Regions from separate parts of the Homo sapiens genome. Here region 1 is linked to region 2. Evidence: fine-mapped expression QTL. A gene starts in region 2. The other region holds a variant in brackets. All regions are shown on one strand. Distances are between the middles of the regions. Region 1 has its middle 450 kb from the start of CT83. Region 2 holds the start of AGTR2 (angiotensin II receptor type 2).

Evidence for each region. PIP is the estimated chance that this variant, and not a neighbour inherited with it, causes the effect.
Region 1: its variant is the best candidate, but not a certain one, in a credible set for the expression of AGTR2 in aorta (GTEx, PIP 0.65).

What each region holds. Positions count from the first base shown.
Region 1 is chrX:116,906,151-116,911,396 of GRCh38, reverse strand. No RefSeq gene overlaps it. Among named protein-coding and RNA genes, the nearest start is that of CT83, 450 kb to the right of the region's middle. The variant C/A (reference allele first, on the strand shown) is at 3,265.
Region 2 is chrX:116,168,754-116,173,999 of GRCh38, reverse strand. It overlaps AGTR2 (angiotensin II receptor type 2), which reads right to left and starts at 3,256. Exons shown (of 3, transcript NM_000686.5): 1 at 3,184-3,256; 2 at 2,973-3,032; 3 at 1-1,754. The coding sequence starts at 1,719. The coding sequence ends at 628.

The DNA.
Region 1 (5,246 bases), 740 kb before region 2:
CTTGCACAAACATGTGATTAGCTTGTCTGCACAAATCCACTGGCTCACAAAATACTAAAACTTGCTACCTAGGGATAAACAGCAGTGGTACCTTGTTCCCATTATAAAAAGGATTGTTTGGCTAGGGAAAATATCTATGGGAACAGAGTGTGGAGGAGAACTTGCAGTTTGGCCATTTGAGGCCATCCAGATTTCAGCAGATGTCAAAGCAGCACATAATGTTAATTATTAATTTTAAGCCTTATACCACAAATGGAATAATTTAAATAATAAACAAGAATAATATTGTTAGCCACAGAATAATATAATGTCTTTTTTATAGAAAATTATAATTAATAGATATGGATGAAAAATGATAATAAAAAATTACCATTAGAACACCACAGTAATAATTGTTTTTGGCAAGATCTACTGAAGCACATTAAAATTAGTGGACAAAAATTTACAGAAAATTAGCACATATGAATAGTCTCAAAATACCTTTTCCAAAATATTTATTACTAACAGGAGAACAATAGTAAATTTATGGTAGAGTAAGCTCTCAGACACTACCTTAACTGAGTGATTAAGATTAATGTTACCAGTAACGAGAAATAGAGACATCCTGTGATCCCAATATAATTCAGTGAGAAAAGCAAAACACGACCTCTGTGGTTTTCTTCCAAATATTGCACCACTTCAGTCTAATCATGAGAAAACATTAGAGAAAACCTATTTGAGGGAAAACCTAGTAGAGAAAACCTATTTCTAGAAATACACTGACCAGTACACTTCAGAATTATTGAGACATAAAAGACAAGTAAATACCAAAGAATTTTTGCAGCTTGAAGGAGATTAAGAAAGCATGGCGACTTAACACAATGTAGTATTTAGGATTAGATCCTGGAACTGGAAAAAAAAATAATGGAAAAACTTGTTAAACCTGAAGCAAGTTTGTAGTTTATGTAACAATACTGTATAAATGTTATTTTCTTAGTTTTTATAAATTCACCATGGTTATGTAAGATGTTAATAGGAGAAACAGGGTGAAGAATGTATGGGAACTCTACTATTTTTACAAATTTTCTGTATGAGTCTAAAGTTATTCAAAATACATTTTTGAAAGATCAGCTATATACACACAACACAAGAGAACCACCACCAACGGATCCACATGGTAATATAATTTCAAAATTGCTTGTACTTTAGTTTTTGTTGTTTAAATTACACAAACTCTGGAATATCTATTGTTTTGTTCCATTCCCAATAAAAAATAGGGTGGAGTTTGGAGGATTCCATATTGTCTTGCCATGTAAATAAGTAGTATGGACCCCAGCTTCATGCATGTCCTATAACCTTTGCTATCATTAAATTAAGCTGTAGCTAATTGCTATTGTTTTTTTGCCATCCACTTCAACTGGCATTTACTGTGATAATCCTGGACCCACTGTGGCCTCTGGTTGATGATAGTCTTTGCACTATGTGTCCTCCTTATCCAAACCACTAATATACATCTCCTTGGCCTGCCTTATTTCAACTTTCCCTGCACTCACCTGAAGTATAGGAATTTTACAAAGCTCTATAACAAGGTACATATAACTCAGTGAGCCTACCTTTAGGTCTATCTACTTTGACTTTCACTCACCATTGTTGGTTGAGAGTCCCAGCACCATGCTGAATGCATGTCTAACTATATTCTCAGTTGACAACATGAACAGCTAGACAAAGGTTGCTTCTACTTTAGAGAGTACCCTCCAACTTATCTGGTGTTTCCTTCACATTGTCCCTCTACCTGGAGTGAGTGTGGGGAACACAGGATCCCTTATTAGAGATACTCAGTGTCTTCTAACACTATTACTCTAAACTCCTGCGTTAGCATCAAACATATCTCTTTTGGAGATGGTAAAAGAGTATAATATAATCATGAATTCTTTCCTCACTCATTTTTATAACATAAATGTTATCCACATAATTTTGTAATCTTTCAAATGTTTGTATTTACATTCAGGCTGCTGTTACCATAATAATGCATTTTATATCTCCAAAGTCTTAATATAGATCCTACAAAATCAGAAAAAAACTTGGCTTTCAATACTATTGATCATTTTCCATGAGTTTTACAAATGTATTTAAAAACTCAATTGATAGGGTGTTATCAGCAAGGTGGTGAAGTAGTAGACAAGCCTTTCAGCCCCCACTGTCATAGTCTGTTTTATATTGCTTATAGCAGAATAGAGGAGACTGGGTTATTTATAAAGAAGATGACATTTATCTCTTATAGTTATGGAGACTGAGAAGTCCAAGTTTCACTTGAGAAGTTCAACGATTGAGGAGCAACATCTTGGGAGAGCTTTCTTGCTGGTGGGGACTCTCTGTACAGTCCCAAGGTGGTACAGGGCAGTTCAGGGCATCACATGGCAAGGGAGCTGAGTGTGCTAACATGTTAGCTCAGTTCTCTCTTTCCTTTCTTATAAAGACACCAGTTGCCTTCCCATGATGACCTAGTAATTAACTGATGAATAGATTCATCCATTTGTGAGGGGAATACCCTCACAAACCAATCACCTATGAAACGCCCGACCTTTTGACACTGTCACATTGGGGATTAATTTTCACCATGAGTTTTGGAAGGCACAATATTCAAATCATAGTATCTACAGAAAGCAACAAATAGTTATTCATGAAGAATAATAGCCCTGGGAGGGATCAAGGGTTAATTTAAGAACTTGAAGCAACACAGTGGAGAAAAACAGAAAAAAGCAAAATGAAACAATACAATAAAATGAAGAGTAAAGACACAGAAAAGATCCCTGGGGAAGTTGGCATACCTGAGATGTCTGGAGATAGTAGGAACAAAGAAATAGGCCAGTGGCTGTCAGCATCAGCCAGGCAATGGGTGACATCATGGTCTTCAGTTGCCTATGCTGGAAAGAACACTAGCATCTTTTACCAGTGAGGTAATCAACAGCAATCCCCTCCAAAAACCGCTGAGATGGAGACGTGGGTGTGCCCCCGCCCCCCCCAAGAAGAAGCAGCTGTGCACTGTTTCAAGGCTGGAGCCATCACCTCTTCCAACCTTGCACACACTCTTGACTCTGAAGTTGTGACCGCTGTGCATATGCCCACACTTCAAACACTGGCTCCAAAGAACTTCTCATTTTCTAGTGTTTCAGACTTCGGCTCTGTGGCCAAACCACACACACCCATGCTGCAAACACCAGAGATATTGCAGCTACAGGCCAGCCTTGTCTCATTCTCTGGAGCCTTGGTCACTCTGTGCATGCC[C/A]GTACTACATATTCCTCCTCCAGGGCTGCTTTATGTGTGCCTACTCCTAGGACATCGGAGCTGCAGTTACATCAAGTTAATCACTACTACATCTGGAACTCCAGAGCCACTATAACTTCTTATGTGCCCATGTTCAAGACTCTGACTACCTGGCTGTGCTGCCTACAAAGATATGTATCTACTACAGGTTTTTGCTTTGTGGTCAGCATGAGATTTCTTATAGTTAGAAAAGACTATTTTAAGCTAATAACAGCATAATCTTAAATGAATGAAAAGAACTCTACACTTTTACTCCCCCTCCCACTTTTTATGTTTTTGATGTCAAAATTCACATCTTATTATACTGTGTATCCATTAACAAATTATTGTAATATAGTTATTTTTAATGCTTTATAGTTTTACCTTTAAATTATTGAGTTATAGGTGATTTACAAACCATCATTATGAGTATTCTGAATTTGATTATATATTTATTTTACCAGTGAACTGTATATAGCAGATACACAAAAGATAACAAGAGATGAGTCAGGGCATACCACTACAGGACAGGAAATCATCAAATCACCAAAATAATGATGATAATAATAATAATAATAAAGACAGCAGCAAGAGTATAAGAAACAACAAAAGATCTACAACATAACCAGAAAGCATTAACTAATGGCAGTAGTAAGTCCATACCTATCAATAGTTCTTGAATGTAAGTAGATTAAATTATTTAATCAAAAGATGCAGAGTGGCTGAATGAATAAATAAACAAGACCCAATTATATTCTCCCTATAAGAAGCTCACTTTAGATTTAAGGACACTCAGGGACTTAAAGTGAAGGAAAGAAAAAAAGATACTTAATGCATATGTAAACCAAAAGAAAGCAAAAGTAGCTATAGTTTTATCATATAACATAGACTTTAAGACAGAAACTGTGACAAGAGGCAAAGAGGGTCATTATATCATGGTAAAGGAGTCAATTTATCAAGAGAATAGAGCAGTTGTAACTATGTATGCACCCAGAATTGGAGCACCTAAAATATAAAGCAAATATTAATAGATCTGAAGGGAAAAATACAAAACAATAATACTGGGGGATTTGAAACCCCAGTTTCAATGACAAATAGATCATCTAGACAGAAAATCAATAAGGAAACATTGTTCTTGAAGACACTTTAGACCACATGAACCTGGAAGGCATATACACGTATGCTTTCCAACAACAGCAGAATACGCATTTTTCTCAAGTGCATGTAGAACATTCTCCAGGATAGATCTTATATTAGGCCACATAACAAGTCAGTGAATTTAAAAGATTGAAATAACATCTAGTATCTTTACTGACCAAAATGGTATGCAACAAAAAATCAATAACAGGAAGAATTTTGGAAAATTCAAAATTTGTGGAAATTAAACAACATGCTATTGAACAAAAAATAGATCAAACAAGAAATCAAAAGGAAAATTTAAAAGTTCCTTAAGACCAATACAAATAGGAACACAGCATATCTAATCATATGAGATGCAGAAAAAGCTGTTCTAAGAGAGAAGTTGCTAGAAATAAATGCATATATTAAGGAAAAAGAAAGTTTCCAAACAAACAACCTACTTTTACACCACAAGGAATAGAAAAACTAACTGAAGTTAGCAGAAGAAAAATAATAAAAATTAGAGCAGACATAAAACAGAAATGAGAAAAAAACATAGGAAAGGTCAACACTCATTTTGTAAAGATAGTAAAATTGACAAACAGCTATACTAAGAAAAATCAGAAATGAAAATATGTTACCACTGATATCAGAGAAATAAAAGGATCATAAGAGACTACTATGAACCAATATATACCAACAAATTGGATAACCTAGGAAAAAATTGATGAATTCCTAATCATATACTGTCTACCAAAACCTATTTCATGAAGAAATAGAAAATCTGAACAGACAAATAAGGAGTAAAAAAATAGAATCAGCAATAAAGAATCTACAATCAAAGA
Region 2 (5,246 bases):
CTGTAAAAATAAGCTAAAGCATAGGAGTATGATTTAATCTATATTCCTAGCCCTATTCAATATGTAGTTATAGATTAACTATAAACCTCCACTCAAGTGAAATGCAAGAGGAATATAATTTATAGCTTTTTTAAAGAAGCATATGCCTAAAGCCTGAATAATCCAGTACTAATCTATTATAATATACTCAACTTAGAAGTGCTCATCTCTCTTACAATGTTGTCTTGTAAATGATGCAATGAGTTGAAAGACTGGTTCTGGTTCAAGAGGAAATCCTGATAAAAATGGATATAAAACCCCACTAAGAAACACAAGCATGTTTCAAAGAGAAATCTGAATCCCCAAATCATTATTCACAATCTATTATTAATTACAATTTGAGATATATCACCAGTTACTTCTAGGTTGTAAATATGTCTCACTAATGACAATCTTGTACAAACATATCAGAAAAACAATGGGCAATTCCTGAAAGTCACTGGACGATAAAACATAGTTACATTTGGTTTCAGAAGATTCAGAAAAGATTAGGGGAAATTTTATTATTTTATTAAAACCACTTAAAAATAATTCTGGTGAGCCTCAAAGCAAGTAGCCATGTTGATTACATGCATTTTGCTCTCACGTTTAAGACACAAAGGTCTCCATTTCTCTAAGAGAACTGCTTTTCCGGCAAGACATACTCTCTCTTTTCCCTTGGAGCCAAGTAATTGGAACCCTAAACACACTGCGGAGCTTCTGTTGGAACCGGTTTCCAACAAAACAATACAGAAACGGATTAACGCAGCTGTTGGTGAATCCCAAGAGGATGGCAAAAGGAAGTGCCAGGTCAATGACTGCTATAACTTCGCAGCTATTAATGACACCCATCCAGGCCAGAGCATCCAGGAAGGTCAGAACATGGAAGGGAAGCCAGCAAATGATGAAGGCCAGAACAACAGCAGCTGCCATCTTCAGGACTTGGTCACGGGTTATCCTGTTCTTCCCATAGCTATTCGTCTTCAGTAAGTGTTTTCTAATTCCAAAATAGCATGTTGCTATGAATATTAAAGGGATAATAAAACCAAGGATATTTTTCATTAAGGCAATCCCAGCTGACCATTGGGCATATTTCTCAGGTGGGAAAGCCATAATGCAAGCATTCACTCCTAAGTATTCAATGGTTCTGACGTCTCGAAAATAAAATGTTGGCAATGAGGACAAACAGGCCATACACCAAACAAGGGGAACTATATAAGATGCTTGCCAGGGATTTCTTCTTTGAGACAGAAAGGGGTAGATGACAGATTGGTACCTATCAACACTCATGCAGGTGATAAAAAAAATGCTTGCAAACATGTTCAGGGTAAGAAAAGAACCAAAAACTTTGCACATCACAGGTCCAAAGAGCCAGTCATATCTATAAGAATAATAGGTTGCCCATAGAGGAAGAGTAGCCAAAAGGAGTAAATCAGCCACAGCGAGGTTGAAGATGTATATGCTAGAAACCTTTTTAGGACCCTTTTGACAACAAAACAGTGTAACCACGACAATATTGACCAGAAATCCAATTACAAATATAATGTAGTAAAGAATAGGAATTGCATCTAAATGCTTATCTGATGGTTTCTGTGAACAGTTCAAGGTAGACTCATTGTTGCCAGAGATGTTCACAAGCCCGAAGTGAAGACCGCTGGTAATGTTTTTGCTAGTAGTGGCAAGGGTGGAGTTGCCCTTCATATTGAAATGTCAGCAGCTCCTAGTTCTTATGCCTTCTGTGGAGAAAAAACATAGAACTCTTAGAACACATACAGAGCTGAGGACATCCTTGAATCATTAGCATTTTGAATGTTTGTCAAAAGCAAAAAAAAAGTGAGTGATTATAGAAAACATTAAGAAACAGAGCCATGGCTTGTAAAACAAGAATTCATTTTACCTCTTGAAAAAGGAGAAATAATTTTCCTGATAGTAGAAAAAAGACATTTCAGAGATTCAAAGTTCTGAATAAAACTACCTTTTGCCCATCTTTTCTATGATGTTTTTGAAAGATTTAAAGAAAATTAATATTTCAAAAGATTAGTCAGGGCAGGAAATGTGTGAAACAAATAAGAAACCCAGAGGTAAGAAAAGTTAATCTTTCAAAAAACACTTGAGCATATATCTCTGTTTGTATACTTTCTAGAAACCACACTGCTGCTTGCTATTGCATAGAGAAATGCTCTATTTAAGTAACTAATTACATACAAATCACTACAGCTGTGGAAAATATAAGTAACATAAGCAATGGAAAAAATAAGTATATAAAAAACTAAAAGAGAATATGCCAAAGGAACATATTGTGATGGGGAATCATGGTTTGTCTTTAATAATTAAAAATAATTCCTTTAGTTTTACTTTTCTATTGTTTTCACAATAATAATATAGTTAAGAAGAAGTTATGAAATATATTTATATTTCTAAGTCTTCTCCTTTTAATAGAGAATATTAGTTTTAGATATAGATATCTAATTTTGGTCTATTTAATATCTAAACAATCCATTTTCAATTAAATCAGATAAAGAAAAAAACAGCCAAACCTATGTTAGGTTCAAGTAGAAGTAGTTTAGATTGCTCAGTGAAATGAGAAATGAACATCAATGATTAATCATGATATAGTCTTATCATTTTTCTTTTTCTCTCTTTTCGGTTTAACCGAACTGAATAGCCGTTGCTCTCAAACGTTACAGTGTTGAGGTTTTTGTGATTTTTTTCACTAGAAGCATTATTTTAAAACCAAAAAAAAAAACACATTAGCTAAAGATAAGCATACAAAGGAAACACTATTTACTTTAGATAGTTTCAAAATACATGCAAATAAGCTACCCAATTAAAAGTGTAATATCTAAAGAACCTCCTAATAAAGAGCAAAACTTTTATTTTGCTCTAAAGATTTTTCTTTTGACCTAACAAATTAACATAAAAGAATCAATAATAAATTCCACTTGAAGACTTACTGGTTGTTGAAGTTTAAAGCAGTTATCATAAATCAGCTTGCTTAGTGCCTAAACACACTCCTGTAAGAGAAACAGCAGCTAAATAATTCAGGAGTTTTGCAAAATACAGTGTTAAAACACAGGAAAAACAGAAGTTCATCCATAAAAAATATTTTCATTTAATGTATGTTCTACTTTCCAAGTAAATTATATATAAATTGTTCATACTTACCTTCAAAATTCAGGCTGCAGAATGCTTTGAATTCTGTGCTTACTCGTTCTCTCAGACGCTGGGACGTAATAGCACCAGATCTCTGGTTTCCTTCTTATATGTTTGGTCTGTCCACTGGGAGCCTTCAACCTACATAATTCTAGGGCTGACTTATGAACCCTTGCCAGCTTTCCAGAGAGGTTTTTTTTTGTCTGCAAAACATTAATCTGAAATTCTCACTGTCTCCAATCATAACAGCTCATTCAAATAAATCTCAAACAAAAAAAATGAAGTTTCCACAAATGTGCTAGAGAATTTTGAAGTCAGTGGCTTACTTGGTAGGAGAAAAATATAGTAATTATTTACAGAATTTTCTCTTCCTTTTTTCCTGATATTGGCATTCTAATAGAAATTAGTGAGTAGAGACTAGGAAATTTATTATAGTAGCAAAGTCTTTGTTCATCAGCTTTCACAACCTTCATTACTTTCTGAAATTTTTACCCCTGTTTATTAAAGAATGGTAGGAATTTTACTTGAAGTCTACCACTTCTAAAATTTCTCCCTTGCTTTGCGCAGTTTTTGTTGGCTTGTTGCTGGAGGGTTGGAGATTGCAGGAATATAATTTTTACACGACCAAAAAGAGGTTTAGTCTCCTTTCATAGGTCTCTGTCATATTTGTGGTTTAAATACAAAGCACATAAAGTGAAGAGGGATTCGCTAGCTATTTCAACCTAGATCACTGTTGCTGCTGTCTCTTGTGGCAGTGGGGGCAATAAACTACACAACCAATCCAGCAGAAGCAAGAGTGACAAAATGAAGAAAGATAAGAACAGGTGATGGTAGTGATAATACTAGCTGACAATAAATGTTATGTGCCGAACACTGTGATGAGTTATTTATCATCAATAATTTAATAGAGAGGCAATATAGCACACTGGTTAGTAAATAGCCTCTGGGATCCAACTACCTGGCTTTACAAACCCAGCTCTACCACTTACTAATTCTGACCTTGGCCAAGTTACTTTACTTCTTCATGTCTCAGTTTCTCATCTGAGAAAGGAGAATGATATAAATTACCTACATCGTAGAGTAGGAATTTTAAATAAGCTAATGGAAAATTAAATGAGCTAATATGTTTAAAGTGCCTAAAATCATGCCTAGCATATGGTAGGTGCTATTACAAGCTATTCATATTAGCCCCCACTTTACAAATCAGGAAACTAGGACTCATAGAGTTTAATAACTTTTCTGAGATCATACAGCTATTAAATGAAGACACTTGCATTTAAATCAAAGGAAACTAATATCAGAACTCACGCTGTTTAGCCTCTATACCACAAGAGGAAGCACTAGATGGTCCCTTAGTCTCACTCTTTGTCTTGGCAAAAAGGAAACGTGGCATTTACAGAAAATCACTGATGACCATTCATAATCTATCATAAAAGCATCAAAGAAGGGGAAAAGAATTGGAAGAATTGTTATGTGGGGAAACGTATTTTTCTTAATTGTATTGCCCAAATGGAGACCACAGGAAGGAGAAACTTGTGACTAGATGGCTTTCTATAGTTAGTACAGAGAACCAGAGAACCTAGAGCACATTTTAAATGGGCAAAAAGATTCAAGTTATTTCTGTGGATCATATTTTTCAGATAAGCAGCAAGAATGCACCTGTCCATGCTGCAGGCCACAGGTAAAGAATGAGGGCAGGCTCTGAGGAAGTAGCTGGGCACCTAAGTATGGAGTTCAGCAGAACAAGGAAGGAGAAGTCAGTGTTGATGACAGAAGACAAAATTGCAAATGGCATGAGACAAATCACATGGCTTTTGATATCTGTCTGTTTCTCCATTAATATTAAAGTCAATACTGTAGCACACAGGCAGATGAGATCAGTGAGAAGTCATCGTTATGTGAAAAATACAGTAGGATTCAAAGGTTTGCATAGGCCATCATAAAGTTTGTTTGGTAAACAGTTTGAACATTGTCAAAATGCCCCTAATATATGTATGCACCATTTTACTAAATCTCAAAATATTTGTTTCCTATGCTCTGGACAGATTCAGTTGAGGCTGAGGCTCTGTTAAAAT